Linked DNA regions of Homo sapiens: regions 2 and 3 are each linked to region 1. Evidence: fine-mapped expression QTL. A gene starts in region 1. Each other region holds a variant in brackets. All regions are shown on one strand. Distances are between the middles of the regions.

Region 1 (6,214 bases):
AACACAAATAAAATAGTCATCTGTCAGCATGGAAACCTAACCATGGACACTGTTATAACAAATTCAGTTTTTTGTGTATGAACTGAAAGCAAAAATAACATGCAAATCTCTTAGAGAGACTTGAGTACACTTTTTTATTTGGTGTGGAACTGTACCTTTTTTTTTTAATCTTGTGAGTTGGTAGGATCAAATAAACAAAAGAACATGAACTATAAAAGTGAGTCTACAATTTTCAGCCGTTCAGAGATTCTGAACCAGACTTTCATTTCCACGAAATTGCTTTAGACGGAAATATTTAATAAAAAATAAAGTATGTAACAAAAGGAACTGGTCATAGAGGTGTCTTATATTTATGTAACACTTTGGTGTTTACAAAACACACATCTATAGCATTTACTTTTTATCACAGCCCTGTGTGGTACAAATGATTATGCACCTTTTCTGTATTAAGAAACTGATTAGCTGAGTCAAGCGACTTGCCCAAGGACACAGAGCTGATGAGCAACTCAGTCTTCAGTCTCCTGGTTTTAAGTTTCCTTTAAGCATGCAATTTCATTTAGCCCTTTTTTACGAAGTTTAACAAAGCATGCTTAAGAAGCTTCAGGGGAGGGAAAAATAAATCCAAATATATCCCTCACTTTCCATGAAAAGAATGTCTGACGTAACAAAAAGTATAATAGAATACCTAGAACTCAATTTAAACAAATATAGGAGAAGAAGGATTACATTCAAGAATTTTAGTGATATTTTGAAAAATATTTCTATGTAGTTATAAGACTTTATTTGAATTTTAATTATTAAGAATCCAATAATGCTTATGAATTCATAAGCTTAGATTTATGGTCAAGGCTTTTTTCTATCCTGGGGCCCAAGATGAATTTCAATTAAAATGTTCTATTAAACTATGGAATACAGAGTTACCATGTGATCCAGCAATTTCACTCTTAGGTATACACCAAAGAGAAATGAAAACTTGTACACAAATATTCATAGATGCATTATTCATAATAGTTAAAATGTGAAACAACCCAAATATACATCAAACTGATAAATGGATAAGCATGGATATAAAAGGTAATATACCCAAATCATGGAATGTTATTCAACAATAAAAAGAATGAAGTATTGATGTATGATACAACATGGATGAACCTTGAAAATGTTACAGTAAGTGAAATAAGCCAGACATAAAGACCATATACCGTATGATTCCATTTATATGATATGTCCAGAATAGACAAATCCATAGATTCAGAAAATAGATTAGTGGTTTCCAGATGACAGGGGACAGAGGAAACTGGGAGGTACAAATGTTTTGGCGGGAGGGGTGGAAATGAACTACAATTAGTTGGTGGTGATGGTTGCACAACTCTGAATACACTGAAAGCCAATGAAATGGTTGGACTTCATGCCATGAGAAATCTATCTCAATAAAGCTGTAAAAAAAAAATGGAATGTAAAATTCTACCTGTCCTATAATGACCACCCCAACCAACTCTCAACTCACAATTCCCACATAACTTTATTTTTCTATGCACATATCCCTTTGTAGCTTGCATTAAAATTGTTAGTGTGCAGGTAGTCCAGTTAGACTGAAAGCTCCTAAAGACAAGGAATCATGCCTTGCTCATCTTTGTTCCCTGAACTGACGGTTTCTTAATTCACTGAACACTCACTATGAGTGAGCTCAAGAGCTGGGAATAAGGACCCCTGCCCTTGAAGGTCTAATCACGTTGCTGGAGACAGACAGTCGACAAATACAGTCAGCCAGTAAACTCTTCCTGCATTATGCTAACAGCATAAACATGCAGGGGGTGGGAGCAGGGTCACAAAAGTGAGTGTTGTCAATTCTACTTGGAATGAAAGGTTGAAATAATTTAAACAGTACGGGAAATGCAGAGCAATTTTCTCCTCTGGTGACAATATAGTGTCCAACACTTGGAAGTGATTTTTAAGAATGTTTATTTAAATTAAAAGGATGGATTTCCAAGGAAAAAAAATAAGGAAAAGGAAAGAAAAAACTGAACAGAAAACGCAAAAGTATCAGTTTGGTCACTAACCTTTGCAAGGATACCTTTTTATTTTCTTTAAGATTCCTGTTGTTTATACACAGATTTTAAGTTTACTCCTACTGCTGACCCAAGTGAAATTCCTTCTCCAGTCACAGTGTCAACCTCTACCCCCCAACTGCAACGAGAGTTTTGAGGGGCATCAATCACACCGAGAAGTCACAGCCCCTCAACCACTGAGGTGTGGGGGGGTAGGGATCTGCATTTCTTCATATCAACCCCACACTATAGGGCACCTAAATGGGTGGGCGGTGGGGGAGACCGACTCACTTGAGTTTCTTGAAGGCTTCCTGGCCTCCAGCCACGTAATTGCCCCCGCTCTGGATCTGGTCTAGCTTCCGGATTCGGTGGCCAGTCCGCGGGGTGTAGATGTTCCTGACGGCCCCAAAGGGTGCCTGAACGCCGCCGGTCACCTCCTTCAGGAAGACTTCGAAGCTGGACACCTTCTTCTCATGGATGACGACGCGGCGCCCCGCGTAGAAGGGGTCCCCGTTGCGGTACACAAGCACGCTCTTCACGACGGGCTGAGACAGGTGGCTGGACCTGGCGCTGCTGCCGCTCATCTTCCCCGCTGGCCGCCGCCTCAGCTCGCTGCTTCGCGTCGGGAGGCACCTCCGCTGTCCCAGCGGCCTCACCGCACCCAGGGCGCGGGATCGCCTCCTGAAACGAACGAGAAACTGACGAATCCACAGGTGAAAGAGAAGTAACGGCCGTGCGCCTAGGCGTCCACCCAGAGGAGACACTAGGAGCTTGCAGGACTCGGAGTAGACGCTCAAGTTTTTCACCGTGGCGTGCACAGCCAATCAGGACCCGCAGTGCGCGCACCACACCAGGTTCACCTGCTACGGGCAGAATCAAGGTGGACAGCTTCTGAGCAGGAGCCGGAAACGCGCGGGGCCTTCAAACAGGCACGCCTAGTGAGGGCAGGAGAGAGGAGGACGCACACACACACACACACACAAATATGGTGAAACCCAATTTCTTACATCATATCTGTGCTACCCTTTCCAAACAGCCTAATTTTTCTTTTCTCTCTTCTTGCACCTTTACCCCTCAATCTCCTGCTTGCTCCCAAATTAAAGCAATTAAGTTCCTGGATGTAGTTGCCCAGGTTTTTCTTTGCTGGAAGATAAATGTGCAAAGCCAGATGCGGTGGCTTACGCCTGCAAATTCCAGTACTTTGAGGGGCCCAGGCGGGAGGGCTGCCTAAGACCAGGAGTTCTAGACCAGCCTGGGAAACACAGGGAAAGCCCCCGTCTCTATAACGCGCCTGTGATCCCCTGAGGCAAGGAGTTTGAGACCAGCCTGACCCGGTCTCTACAATTAAAAAAAAAAAAAAAAAAAAAAAGTAGGTGGGCAGGGTATTCGCCTGTGGACCCAGCTATCTCGGAGGCTGAGGCGGGAGGATTGTTTGAGCCCAGGAGGTCGAGGCTGCAGTAACCTATGATTTTGCCACTGCACTCCAGCCTGGGCGACACAGCAAGACCCTGTCTTAGAAAATAAAATATATATTTTTTTTATATATATATTTTATATATTTTATTTTATATATATTTTATTTATTTATTTATATATTATATATTTTTATATATAATATATAAAATATATATTTTATATATTATATATAAATATATATATTATATTTATATATATATTTATATATTATATATAATATATATAATATATATGTATTATATATATTTATATATATAATATATTATATATTATATATATTATATATTATATATTTTATATATTATATATTATATATTATATATTATATATTTTATACATTATATATTATATATTATATATTTTATATATTATATATTTTATATTTTATATTTTATATATATTATATATTTTATATATCATATATATTATATATCATATATTTTTATATATTATATATTTTATATATTATATATTATATATATTATATATTTTATATATATTATATATTTTATATATTTTATATATTTTATATATATTTTATATATTTTATATATTATATATATTTTATATATTATATATTTTATATATTTTATATATTTTATATATTATATATAATATATATTTTATATTTTATATATATTATATATTTTATATTTTTTATATATATTATATATTTTATATTTTTATATATATTATATATTATATATATTTTATGTATATTATATATTATATATATTTTATATATTATATATTATATATATTTTATATATTATATATTATATATATTTATATATACTATATAGTATATATATTTATATATACTATATAATATATATTTTATATATAATATATTATATATATTTTATATATTATATATATTTTATATATATTTTTTATATATTTTATATATATTATATATTTTTATATATATATTTTATATATATTATATATATTCAGAGAGAGAAAGAGAGAATCCGGGTACCGTGACTCATGCCTGTAACCCCAGCACTTTGGGAAACTGAGGCAGGAGGCTCACTTGAGCCCGGGAGTTTGAGACCAACCTGAGCAGCACAGCAAGACCCCATCCCGGAAGGAGGGAGGGAAGGAAGGAAGGGAAAAATAACATTTAAGTGAATGAATGAATGAATGAGAAACAGAGCGAAGACTCGCGTGTCTAGGACCCCTAACCCCCTCCCCGATGATCAGCGCCGCCTGGCGGCGAAGCTCGGGTGCGCATCACGTGAAGACAGCAGGCAGCGCGCAAGCGGGGCCCTGGTTGGGGAGGCGGGCCCAGGAGGTGCCCTCCGCCGTAGTACCTACCGACACTCGCGTGCTGGAGAGGGGAGGGGAGCTCGGGCGCCGGCCGCGCGGGGGCGGGGCGGTGCGGCTCGGGTGGCACAGTGGTGAACTCTGCGGCGGCTGCGCGCCGCTCACGCTGTTCCTCCAGCTGCTGTTACCTCTGCGGGCCTCTCTCACCCAAGGGGAACGGAGTTGTTATTTCCCGCTGTTTCCATAGCAACCGCAGCCTCGCGCGGGGAGCGAGTCAGTGAACCAGGCCTGGCTTGCGCCTGGCTCCTTGGGATATGCTGGCTGCGTGGGGCAGAGGCGGAAGAACAGGGGTTTGGAGGAAGAGGGAGAAACAGGTGACATGATCATGCGCTCATTCATCATGCGCTCATTCAGTAAATGGACGCCTGCTGTGTGCAAGGCCCTGTGCTAGTTGGGGCCACGGCGGTGAAAAGGAAAACCTACAAAATTTTGAGTGCCTACCCTGTGCCAAGCTTTACGCCAGGGAAAGGATTTTTTCACTGCCGCAAGAAGGCTAAATGTCTGACTGGCTGTCCAAGAGCCCACATCTGTGCTATTTGTGTAGATTGTTAGCTCTGTCTGAGGAATAACAGGGAGAGGAGTTGTGAGAATAGTAACAGCCCCAGTAAAGAGTCGCTTTGTCCAGTCCAGTCTGGGACATACATATTGTGGCACCAGGAAAATGTTTAAAGAGTTGAAATTTTGCAGCTCATCTCTGCCAGTGTTTCCTTCATTCCTCCTAAGACTTTTCTACCATGTGTCATGTCCAAATTACTGGGTGTTCCTAACTCATCATGTACGAATAAAAAGAACTGCCATTAATTGAACACTATAACCATGGACCAGGCATTATGTAAGGCACTTTATGTAGATTATCTAATATTCACAATAACCTTCAGAGGTAAATATTATTCTTTCCTCAGATGAGGAAACTGAAGGGTAGAGAAATCAAAGACATTTACCTCAGGTCACACACACAGGAATTCAAACCCATTCTAAGGATTAGAAAACGAAAGAGAGAGAGAGAGTTCAAACCCAGTTCTGTCTTATTCCACAAGCTCCATAACCAGTCATATCACTGTGAAAGATGAATGTGTGGGACATTGCAATCTGGAGAGAAACTTTTTTTTTCCTTCGAGATTTCTGTTCTGAAGAAATATTTTTATTAAAGCCATGTAATACATTAATGCTTTGAAAGTTAACAGTTTTCAAACGCAGGAACAAAAAACCAAATACCCGCATGTTCTCACATATAAGTAGGAGTTAAATGAGGAGAACTCACGGACACAAAGAAGGGAACAACAGATACTGGGGCCTACTTGAGGGTGGAGCGTGGGAGGAGGGAGAGGAGCAGAAAAAATAACTGTTGAGTATCAGGCTTA
Region 2 (6,214 bases), 98 kb before region 1:
TTAATCAAGTTAACCTTAAGAAATATCATCATAAATAACTGGAATGCCTAACCTTCAAATAAAAACATGGCAAAAAGTACACAATGTGTGAAAAAATTCAGTCATTCTCTCATCAAGCTCTTCAGAGAGCTTTGTGTTATAAACCAAGCCAGATGATGGGCTCACAAAGATGAAAAAGACAATAATAAGCAGGAGTCCTGGCTCTCAAAGAGTTCACGCACCAGTGGAGAGAAAGGGCATGAAAACAACCTGTTCAATTACAACACCTGCTGTTGTAATACACCTGCTGTAAAGTTGTGTCCCACTAGGAGGCAGAGCAAAGAAAAAGCTCAACTCTGGGAGTCTCAGAACAGATCTTATAGAAGAGATGATGCCACTGTTAGTCTTAAAGAGAATAAAGTTATGGGTATTCTAGACAGCTGCAAAGAGACATACAAAAGACACGCGATCGAGAAACTCTAAAATGTTTTATATGTAGGGAGGCTTGTGGAAGACGCCTGAAGTTGGGGAAAAAAAAAAAAGGCCATGAAAGTGACAAGCTTCTAAAGAAATTTCATCAGAAAAGTTTTGTGTTTTTAGAGCACTCTGGCAGAGCTGTGATGTACAGATAGGGAGGGAGCTTGGAGACCATCTGGAAAAAAGGCTGCAGTAGTCTGCATTAAAAATAAGGAGCTTAAATCAAGGATGGTCAGGAAGGACCAGATTCAAGAGACTCTGAGAAAGTAGAATCAATGAAAATTAGCTCTGATTGAGTGTGAAGAATGAGGCATGGAAAAATCTAGGATGACTCTAAAGTTAACTGGATTAAAGTGGTGTAAGAGGAGACACGGAGGGGATTAGAAAGGAATCAGGCATGGACTGCTAACCTCCTGAAGTAGTGTGTTCAGAGTGGGTTCCTTCGGGTGGGTTCGTGGTCTCGCTGACTTCAAAAATGACGCCACTGACCTTCACAGTGAGTATTACAGCTCCTAAAGGTGGTGCGGACCCAAAGAGGGAGCAGCAGCAAGATTTATTGTGAAGAGCAAAAGAAAAACCCTTCCACAGCGTGCAAGTGGACCCAAGTGGGTTGCTGCTGCTGGCTGGGGGCGGGGGGTGGCCAGCTTTTATTCCCTTATTTGTCCCCGCCCACATCCTGCTGATTGATCCATTTTACAGAGCACTGATTGGTCCACTTTACAAACATCTAGCTAGCCACAGAGAGCTGATTGGTGCACTTTTACAGAGTGCTAATTGGCGCATTTTACAAACCTCTGGCTAGCCACAGAGCACTGATTGGTGCATTTTACAATCCTAGCTACAGAGTGCTGCTGATTGGTGCATTTTGCAATCCTCTTGTAAGACAGAAAAGTTCTCCAAGTCCCCACCCGACCCAGAAGTCCAGCTGGCTTCACCTCTCCGTAGCACCACAATATGGAAACTACTGTCAACAAATGTGAACCTCAGAGAGCCAATCCTTCAAGTTGAATCCTGAGTCACTCACTGGGTCTAAATTTAAAATAGAGCCAAGTAGCCCTTTGCTGACTAGAGGTCACACACATAACTCTGAGCCCTCAGAAAATCCACATTTCTGTTCAACTTTGGGACTCTCAGAGTCACTTGAACCAACCAATCAGAGCTCACCTGCCTCAACCAATCAGGGCTCAGCTGTACCAATCAATAGGAGCTAAGCAAGTTTGAATCCTTCATTTGCATAAATGAACCTGGGCAGGAACTTGTGCTATAAAACCTGAACCCTCCCTTTGTTCTCTAGAACACATCTTCATTGTGCACTAAAGGCTGCAATCTCCTTGGTTTGCAAACTGTTCACAGGAATAGTCTTTCCTCGAAATTCCTTTTCAGAGAACTTTTGTTCATATTATGAACTCCTCTCCTCTTCCCCCTTTCCACTAGCGTGGGTCACACTCAGATTTCTAGCTGGGTGATATCCAAAGATACAAGACATGTGAAAAAAAAACAGCATGTAGGGGGAATCCAAAGCTCGGAGAATTTTTTAATTTGTGCATGTAGGATGTACGTGACAAATCAAGGTAAAAATTTCAAGTAGTCAGAAATATGGGCCTTAATGTAAGAAGAAATTTGTTTCCAGGCTCAGATCTATAAAGAGGCCGTTGAGAATGTGTCAAGGGCCTTTTAGTGAGGGATACATAATTACGAAAAATGAAAGTTTTGTTGTTTACTAAGTGATGGTCTTTAGAGTAAATAGTGATATTCGCAGTCACCATTATGATTTTTAGAAGAGTGCATGGCCACTTTTAAGCTAATGTGAAAAAGTATATGAAAATAACATTATAAGGTTAAACTAGCACGGAAACATCAAAAAGAAAACAAAAACAGCAATTCTCTATTGTCCAAGAAGCAAATTTCTGAACAATCTCTCCCCTTCCCTGTTCATATTAAATTAAATTGTTTTTCCAATTTGAAGGATTAATTAACATTTAACTACTCTTGGTTTAAAATGCATTAGAGATTTAAATGCTGAAACTGGTCCTGGTTTTATTTTCTTCTTTTTTTCAAAATTCTATGCCTAGAACTTTCTCTCTCAAATAAATATCAATTCCCAGTCTCAGCAGTCAGATTTAACCTCTCTCCCCTGTGCTCTCAAAGCCTTGCTTGGTTACTCTATTCTGCTACTTGTAATATCCTACCTTGACTTAGAAACACTTCTGAGTCTCCAACTCAGTAAGTTTCATGAGAAGAAAACAAACCACAGTGTTTTCCCATTTTTATGCCTCTCCTCTCAGTACTCACCATGTTGACAATAAAATTCAGTGGAGCTTAGGAGTAAAGAGAGTAACCTAGAGGCTAACTGGTGTTAAAGAGAATTGATGCTTAAGGTTATTTTTAGTTTTTTAAATTTTTATTAGAATAAGAAATGATTCTGTCTGCCCAACTAACTTTTTTCTTCCCTCTCTCCTTCTACTCCTTTCTAATCCTACTGATCTTCCTTAAACTTTTTCATCATCTTCCAAGAAACTTCAGCTTTTGGCTTCAGACCAGAGTGGCAACTGAGTCTTGGGAGGGGGAGGACACAAAGCTATAAGGGACAGCTAACTAGGAAAGCATGAATTATTAATGGGTTGCCGGTTCCCACCTCTCATCTCTAGGCTCTCTCATTTCTGGTACTAAAGTTCCTCATCTCTGACTTGGAGACCAGTCCAGACTAATTCGTATCTCCTTACATAGATACTGCCTCTTTTGGCACTTTCTACTTTACAAAAGTGTTTTCTCAGTCATAATGTTTCATTATTATAAAAATGCTAAATAACCATCATCATGCTTCTAAATTATAACCTCAGGGTGAATGCAGGAATAAAGTCTAAAGAGAATTTGATTATTCTCCCAACTAATTTCTAAAAATTAAACAGGCAGCTTGCCTCACAGTTGAACAGCTGCCTTATATCCATCTAGCTACTAAAGAAGCTTTATTTCTCTGTCCCTTCTGTCTGAGGCTTGCTCAGAAAATAAAAATTTCTAAGATGTGAACTCATCCATCTAAAAGTTATAGAGTGCTGTACTAATTAGGTCTGGAACTCTGTTTTAACTAGCAAACCTTACCAAATTGAAAATATAATAAATCTCAACCATGCTGGGATAAAAAGTGCCAGAGAAAATATGGAGACCATTTGTCAATGATGGTGCTCAA[T/C]GGTTCAAGTTTTTGTCCTGGGAGGCTACTCTTCTTGACTCCCAGAACAATGACAGCCCACACTGCTTATTCCAATATTGGATTGAATTATTGAGAACTCTGGTACCAATGTGGGGTAAATGACAGAATTCTTTTATTTAAGAGAAACAGTCATTGTTCCCTTTTGCTCCTAATACATTCTTTGTCTAGTCTGACATGGGAACTGTCTATGCTTTTAATTGAATCTTTTAAACAATTCTGCAGTTACAGAAGAATAGTAATTCATTTTAAGATTGCAAAATTTTCACCTCATACAAAAAGAGCAATTTTAGAATTCTCAGCTAACATCTTCTCCATATCCTTCATTAAGTACATTTTAAATCCATTTTCTTGCTTTTTTTTTTTTTTTGGTGTTCAACTACTCTGCAGAATGTCTCTACCTTTGTTTCTGATCTGAGATGTCAGTGCTTTTTTTTGTTGCTACTAATGTTATGCACATAAGGTTTGTAACTTCTTAGCCCAAGCCAAAGTTCTATGGCAGCTTTGGTGGACAGTTCTCATATGGTTTGAGGTCTTTCTACCTCAAGTTCCTGAGTTTCTCTGCCTGAATCTCTTCTCTGGCCAGAGAAGCATGTTCAGCCTGAGTATGGGATGGGCTGGAGTGCCAGGGAGGTAATTCTCCAAGTAAAACCCTCAAGCAACAAAGGGCAGTAATTGGGAGACAGACATCCCAGTTTCCTTGATCCTGCATGGGACAATTCTAAGGTGTGTTTCATGGGCTCTGAGAGGGTCCCAGCAGGACTGAGTGCAGTTGCCCACAGGAGTAACTTTTTCAATAATATCCTTCCTTATTGACTTTTCTCATCCTTATGTCTTACCTGCCCCTAATTTCCGAGGTCAATTCCCAAATGAATTACTTGCACCCAAGTCCTTTTCTCAGCTCGTCATCTACTAAGCATAGCTTTTGGTGAAACCCAAATTAAGATAAACAGGCATCAGATATCTTAACAGCTGCAATGAACATAAACAATCAATGAAGTAGCCCATTCAAAATTCCAGTTGAAAAGTATCTCCAACCAAAAATTCTATGTCAGGAAATGAGGTGGAGCAAGACGACCAAATAAAACCCTCCAGCAATCACTGTCCACCCCCCAACAGGAATGCCAAATTGAACAGCTATCCACACGAGAAAGCCCCTTCATAAAAAACAAATATCAGGTAAGCAATCACAGTGCCTGGTTTTAACAGCGTATCAAGGAGAAAGGCACTGAAGATGGTAGGAAAGACAGTCTTGAATTGCCTACACCACCCCACCCCCGTCCCCCAGCAGCAGCCTCGTGACACCGAGAGAGAATCTGTGTGCTTAGGGGAGGGAGAGCACAGTAATTGTGAGACTTTGCATTGTAACTCACTGCTGCCTTGTCACAGCAGAAAGCAACATGGGGCAGAATTCAGCCAGTGCCCATGGAGGGAACATTTAGACCAGCCCCAGCCAGAGGGAAACTGTCCCATCCTAGCAGTCAGAACCTGAGTTCAAACTAGCCCCATCACTGAGGGCTAAAGTGCCAGAGCACTTAAATAAACTTGATAAACTTAAATAAACTTGAAAGACAGTCTAGGCCACAAAGAGTGCAACTCCTGGGAAAGCCCTGGTGCTGCGCTGCCCTTGGAGCCAGTGGACTTGGGGTGCACACAAATTAGTGAGACACCAGCCAGGGTGGCTAAGGGAGTGCTTGTGCCACCCCTCCCCCAACCCCAAGCAGTACAGCTCGCAGCTTTGGGAGAGATTCCTTCTTTCTGCTACAGGAGAGGAGGAGGAGGAGTAAAGAAGACTGTCTTGCAACTTGTACACCAGCTCAGCCACAGTAGGATAGGGTGCCAGGCAGAGCCCTGATGCACTCATCCAGGCCCTAGCTCCCAGATGACATTTCCAGACACACCCAGGGCCAGAAGGGAACCCACCTTGGGCCAGCAGGGAGAAAAGCTTATTGCCTTGAAGGGAAGGACATGGGTCTGGCTGGGTTCACCAACTGCTGACTGAACAGCCCCTGGGCCTTGGGTGAACATCAGCAATAGCCAGGCAGTGGTCACTGTGGGCCTTAGGCAAGACCCAGTGTTGCCCTGGCTTTAGGTCTGATCCAGTGCAGTCCCAGTGGTGGTGGCCATATGGGCTCTTGTGTCACCCCTGCCCCAGGATCCAGGGAGCTCAGTATGGAGAGAGACTCCATTTGTTTGCAGGAAGGCAAGAGAAGGGGAAAAGAGTCTCTGCCTGGTAATGCAGGGAATTCTCTTGGATCTTACCCCAGATCACCAAGACAGTGCTTCCACGCATCTGCCAAGAGTCACAGCATTACTCGGCTTGAGGTGCCCCCTAATGCAGATGCAGCTGCAGTAACCAAAGACTTAGATTACAACACACAACACACTTGGAATACCTAGAAAGCCTTCTCAAGAAAGATGGGTACAAACAAGCCAAGACTGTGAAGACCACAACAAATATCTAACCGTTCAATGCTCGGACATCAACAAACATCCAAAGCATCGAGACCATCCCGAGAAACATGACCTCACCAAATAAACTAAATAAGGCAC
Region 3 (6,214 bases), 110 kb before region 1:
AGAATAAGAAATACTCCAAACAAACTTTCTGAATAAAACACCATTCAGTCACTCACAGATATATGCCGAGCTCCTTTCAATTCAAATAAGGATTGGTTATATATCTTTATCACGCACATGAAGAAACGTTGAAAGGGGAGCAGTTTGGAATATGGGTATAGCAACAGAGTATGGAGGCAGAGCACTATATTTTGAAACTATGTTTCTTCATAGCTGTGTACTCTTAAAAATGTTCTTGGCCATGTGTGGTGGCTCACGCCTTTAATTCCAGCACTTTGGGAGGCTGAAGCGGGTGGATCACCTGAGGTCAGGAGTTCAAGATCAGCCTGGCCAACATGGTGAAACCCTGTCTCTACTAAAAATACAAAAAATTAGCTGGGTATGGTGGCGGATGCCTGTAATCCCAGCTTCTCAGGAGGCTGAGGCAGGAGAATCACTTGAACACGGGAGGCAGAAGTTGCAGTGAGCCAAGATTGCACCATTGCACTCCAGCCTGGGCAACAAGAACAAAACTCCATCTCAAAAATATTAAAAAACAAAAATAAAAAAAGAATGTTCTAACGTTCTTTAACTGCTCTTCAGCTCAGTTTCTGCATCTGTAGATTGGAATAAAATACCTAAAATTGTTGTGGGCATTAAATGAAAATATGCTGTGAAGTTCTTAGTAGACAGCCACCAACAAATGTAGCCACCATTATTACCACAGGACACCATACGGTGCAGTGCGGGGGAGCAGTTGTTTCAAACACTAACTTCTTCACTTACCAGATCTAGACCTTCACATACAAGTTACATGGTCTGAACCTCTTCAAGCCCCGATTCCTTGTCTGTAAAACTGAGATAGTAGCTGCTTCATGGCACTGTTAAGAAAATTAAATTATACAACATGCACAAAGAACTCAATATACTGCCTGGCACACAGGATGTCCTTAATCAGTGGTAGTATTAGTATTGGTAGTATTAGTATTAGTATCATTAGTATCATTTTGTGGCACAATTTCCTGAAGACCAGTTTTGCTGGCAGGATATACGTGGTTAAGCAAAGGTAAGACCTTTGGAATAGTAAGATACTAAGAGGCGAATTTAATTTGTAATTCCCTCGAGGGCAGAAACATCTGTTTACTACATGCCACGTACTCCACCTGTTAATTGATGACTTACCCAGATGAAAAAATGCACTGACCTACCTCATATAAAACATACAACAAATAAAAATGACTATAAACATTTTCAAAATATTAACTCCTGCATAAATATTAAATTAAAAATGGAGCTCAATAGGGAATCACTAATAAGATGTTTGAAAATATAAAGCATCTGTTTTCACATTATGCCAATTAACCTAATGCCCTTATTCCTTTAAAACCATAACTACCAATTACCAATGCCCCATCCATCCATCCAGTGAGCAGCTTTAGTTTCTTTTTTGCATTTAATAATTTTAGGTATTTGTTTTCTAAATGAAATACCAAGTGTCAGGTGACCATAATTTCCAAGGTTCCTTCTACTTTGATTTCTGTTATTCTTATTTAATATATTAAAACTCTTAAAAATAAGCCGCTCATTCTAAAGTGACTCACTTAATACCTGATGACTCCCTAAACAAAGGAATTAGAGTGAAAGGCTCTGCTTTATAATTCTATTTTAAAAGTTAATGTGAGCTGATTGTTTTTAATACTTCCATAATTAAAAATATACTACAATCATAGCTCTGTGGAGATGGGTTTGACTTGCTGAAACCCATTTAACTAGTATTAATTGCTAAAATTCTATTTGGGAATCTGATAGTTTGAGTCCCATGTAAGAAGACAAGTCTCTATTCACTGATACCTTTTTAAAATTCAATTGAAAAATTCAATACACTTTCTCTTCTAACATTTTAAAATAGCAAAGCCCCAGCTTTGCTCACAGCTGTGCTGCTATGATATACAGTAATGTAGCTTTTGATAATTTCAGAAGTTTCAAGATAAGGCAGCGATGCATTGGTTGCACAAAACGCCTATATTTAGGTTTCTATCTCCTTATACTCTTATGTGTATTTTATCTAAGCCTAATCCAACCGACAGTGTTAAATTAAAAAATAAAAACATTAAGAGATGGGGAGTAAAGACAGATTTAGTTGTAATCATTGTGAATTATTTTGAAAACCACATCTCCTAACAGCATTTCTCAGGAATATCATACCCTCAGCACTGTGTTTGGGGATAGTAGATCCTCTACAAAGCCTTGTCGAGTGAGTGTGGTCCCTCCCTGACTCCATTCCTCTTTATAATAGCCATATTGAAGAAGCAATATTATTTGAGTTGTAAATTTAAAGTTAAAGCTTTTCTTCACTGTTTCAGAAGGGAATCACTGATTGTAGTCTAATAGAATGAAATATATTGCTCACTTTAAGAATGGCTGCCAGGTAGCAATGACTGAACATAGTAATGGACTCATCAATTAGGCACTGACGAGAGCAGTATGAGCTTTCAGCACAATTGCAATTTGAGAGGTTTAATTAGTAGGCTCAAGTCCTTTTTGATTTTTTACCCGGGTCCCGGCAGCCTCCCTCCCCCATCCTCTGATCCTTCTCATCATCTCTCACTGGACTGAGTCAGAGGTAGGCAGTGAGTGGTAGAAGACAATTGGCAAGAGCCTCCAGGCAAGTTGGAATCTATCAAACCAGAGGTGAGTACAAATCGGTAACCTAAAAGCACCAGGCTAAAATCACATGTCAACACCAGG[T/C]TGCAGGGCCAAAGGAGAAGAGAATGGGGCCAAAAATAAGCAGAAGGTGGCCTGGGTGCTCCGCCTGTCATAGGCTCTCATCTGTGGCCAGTAATCACGGCTGGCTAAAACAGAGCACTAGGGTGGGCCTGCTGTGCTTAAACGACAAGGATCCTACAGAGGTAAAAATGTTGCAAATGTTATACACTTCTTCCTTATGGCAATGAAAAATATGTTCTGAACATACATATATTCTAAGCATTCAATTTCTAAAAGCATGTTGTCCCTTCTAGTGCTATAAGGCAAAAGTTACTGATGGTAACATTATAATATACACAATCTGCATGCACAAATATATTTATAAAATATGTGAACAATTCTAAAAGACAGACTGCTTTAGAAGAACAGAAATAATACAAATTATTCTGCAAAGTGTCATTTTCCAACTTATATCCTAATCCTTACACCTACCCTATTAATTCAAGAAAAAAAAAACAGAAAATATAAATCATACCCCTAAAGCACTCCTACACCAGGCACCAAAATTACATAGCATGATGATGCAAAATTATGGCACTTTCAAACAGCATTTGAGAGTGTGTCACAAGCGATGAAAAATGTAATTTATTTCTACTGACAGATATTAATTGCTCTGTGTTAGAAAATTTTTGAACCATTACTGATAAGCAAAAATGGTAACATAAACGCCTTGAAAACAACTGCAAGGAAAGAGGTATAGTCTAATCATAAAACCTCCCATAGCATAAGGAAAGGCAATTTCTCAAACAGGACATCTATTATTAAAATTTGTAAATTGTTGCTATGACACAGTAGGAAGAAGCTTAGATGTGAAGTCGCTTCCAGCAGGTCTAAAGTGTTATTAATCTCCAATAGCACTGGCTAATTGGAGTTTAGAATTCTCTCCTGTTTCCTAGCAAATCGCCTTGGTTGAGGCAAAACTGGACAGTTTCAGGGAAACCTTCAAAACAGGAGGATACATGAAGAATAGCTTACTCCTTTAAAAGTGAACCCCAAATGGCGCAAATGAATTTCACTTGCGGTTTGAGAGCTTGCTGTGCTTTTCCTTATTAGTGCCATTATTATTGTTAATCGATTTTGGTCTGTTACTTTAGAGATTATAAGTTTGGACAGCAATGTTAGGTTACCTTGGCTTCCACAGCTGGTATGGCTAGCCCTAATTCCTCACAAACCTCCTGAAATTCTGCTATCTCAGAGAGAACTCTGCGGGAGCCCTTCCATACACCATCTTGACACCTCCTGACACCTGTGCTCTTTTCAGTTGCAAAGTCTGCCTAAGCTAAATCTCACCTCTGCACCATGGCTTCAGCTCTCTGGTCTTGAGCACATTCTGACACCTGTGTCTGAATTCTGCTCTGCCTCCCTGTGTCTCTATTTCTATCCACAGCACTGTTGGTCTCTTAAAAACCTAGGATGGATTTCTTAAGCATTATAAGTAAATCAACTCCCTTCTCCTGATTCTGTATGCATCTGTTATCTTTCTATGCACATTATAATCTCAAATCACATAATTTTTCCAGGATTTTACTGGACTCTTTCCAATTATATTCTGTATACAACCATCAGATAATTTTCCCAAAAATGTTACATTCACCACATCAAATCCCTGTGCACATATTCATCATCTCCAATGCCTTGCCTCTGTAGCTGCAGAATGCTGTCTAAATGTAATAGCTTGGCATTTAAGGCTCCTTATGACCTAGTCCCAGCCTACCTCTATGGACCAGGCCACTACAGCTTTGCACACTAACATCGTCCTCTCCAGCCAAAGTAATTTATGAAATACAAACACAAAGTAGTTAAGCTTTCCTGCCTCTGGATTTTTATTCTGGCAAATTCCCTATTTCCCATCTTTTGATTTCAGACCAAATACCAAGTTCCCTACAAAGCCATTCCAGCCCATAGTGACTGTCCCTTCTTCTACCCTACAACACACATATAGTTCATATTATATACTTCCTTGTACTACTGTTAAATCTGTATATTTAACTATACTATAATTTCCAGCCAGATCACAAGCCCCTTGAGTGAACAATGTCAGGAATTTCTAAAGTCCCACAACATGTGCTAATGAATGCCTGCTGATGGAGCTGATTGGCTCCTTTAACAAATAAGGTCTAAAGGACACAAAGACCATGCTGACCTGCTGAGCAAAGCCACAGAACAAAAGGGAAAAAGGGCGATGATTGAAACCAGAATTTTAAGGGGAAGACAGCCAAATGAAATCATGTGAAAACATGTATGGATCAAAAAGATGCTAGATCAAAAGAGGAAGCTCTGGTAAAAGCAAGCAAGAGGGCAAAGAGATTTAATGAGCAAGAAAGTAGAAAGAGAATGGTGAGGGGAGGATGAGCCTAGAGCCATCTCAAAGCCAAAGTACAAAATCAAAGAAATCTGACCTAATTGACAAATACACTGACACAGCACTCAGCAGTGATAACACAAAAACATTCTTCAAGTACCTCTGGAATTGTTACCAAATTTCACCCTATGCTGAGCCATAATGCAAGTCTCAACAATACAAAGAGACTAAAATTATTTATGTTCACTCACCACAGTGGAATTAAGCTAGAAATCAACAACAAAAGGAACACCAGAAAATGTCAAACTGTTTTGAAATTAAGTAAGGCCATTCTAAATAACCCGGGGTCAAAGAAAAAAATGACATGGGAAATTTCAAAACATTTTACATAAATAATGAAAATAAGACAAATCAAAACATGTTGGATGCAGCTAAAGCTGTGATAAGAGGGAAATTCGTGGGCTTAAATATAATATTAGGAAAAAAACAAGGGCTAAAAATTGATGCTCTATCCATTTCCAGAAGATAGAAAAAGAGTAAGTTAAACTCAAAGAAAGCTGAAGAAAGGAAATAAATATAAGGGTAGAGATTAAATGAAAAATAAAACGAATGTACAATAGAGAAAAATCTAAGTCAAAAGCTAAACTAATTATAAAAAAAGAAAGCATAAAATACTAATGTGAGAATAAAAATAGTACATTATTATAGATCCTACAGGCATTTTCTTTTAAAAGAAGATATAAGGAATACCTTTACACAAATAAATTTTAAAATTTAAGTGAAATGAACTTTACCAACATAATGTATCAAAACTGATGCTGGAAAAAATGTAAATACAGTCATGGATCACTTAACAGGGATCTGATCTGAGAAATGCATTGTTAGGCAACTTCATTGTTGTGTCAATATCACTGAGTGCACTTACACAAACTTAGAAGGAATAGCCTATTACACACCTAGGGTGTGTGCTATAGCCTATTGCTCCTACACTACAAACCTATACAGCATGCTACTATACTGAGTACTGTAGGCAACTATAACACAATGGTAACTACTTGTGCTTCTAAACATAGAAAAAGTACAGTAAAAAAAAATGGTATAAAAGATTTAAAATGGTTATCTATATAGAGCATTTACCATGAATGGAGCTTGCAGGACTAGAAGTTG

Which allele goes with the higher level. Positions count from the first base shown, and alleles are read on the strand shown. Sizes are in standard deviations (SD) of each study's normalised expression. Not every link is listed here.
For the expression in prefrontal cortex of the gene that starts at base 2,941 in region 1, C is the high allele of the variant in region 3 and T is the other (small effect, 0.35 SD a copy in BrainSeq).

What was found. PIP is the estimated chance that this variant, and not a neighbour inherited with it, causes the effect. A credible set is the group of variants that fine-mapping cannot tell apart.
Region 2: its variant is the best candidate, but not a certain one, in a credible set for the expression of DCDC2 in prefrontal cortex (GTEx, PIP 0.59).
Region 3: its variant is the best candidate, but not a certain one, in a credible set for the expression of DCDC2 in prefrontal cortex (BrainSeq, PIP 0.53).

The regions. Positions count from the first base shown.
Region 1 is chr6:24,355,119-24,361,332 of GRCh38, forward strand. It overlaps DCDC2 (doublecortin domain containing 2), which reads right to left and starts at 2,941. Exons shown (of 10, transcript NM_016356.5): 1 at 2,340-2,941. The coding sequence starts at 2,632. It overlaps KAAG1 (kidney associated DCDC2 antisense RNA 1), which reads left to right and starts at 1,785. Exons shown (of 1, transcript NR_174942.1): 1 at 1,785-3,167. RefSeq lists enhancers at 4,666-5,254, 5,088-5,177 and a silencer at 4,798-4,947.
Region 2 is chr6:24,257,189-24,263,402 of GRCh38, forward strand. The region is part of intron 7 of DCDC2 (doublecortin domain containing 2); the gene reads right to left. Among named protein-coding and RNA genes, the nearest start is that of KAAG1, 97 kb to the right of the region's middle. The variant T/C (reference allele first, on the strand shown) is at 3,644.
Region 3 is chr6:24,247,556-24,253,769 of GRCh38, forward strand. The region is part of intron 7 of DCDC2 (doublecortin domain containing 2); the gene reads right to left. Among named protein-coding and RNA genes, the nearest start is that of KAAG1, 110 kb to the right of the region's middle. The variant T/C (reference allele first, on the strand shown) is at 2,728.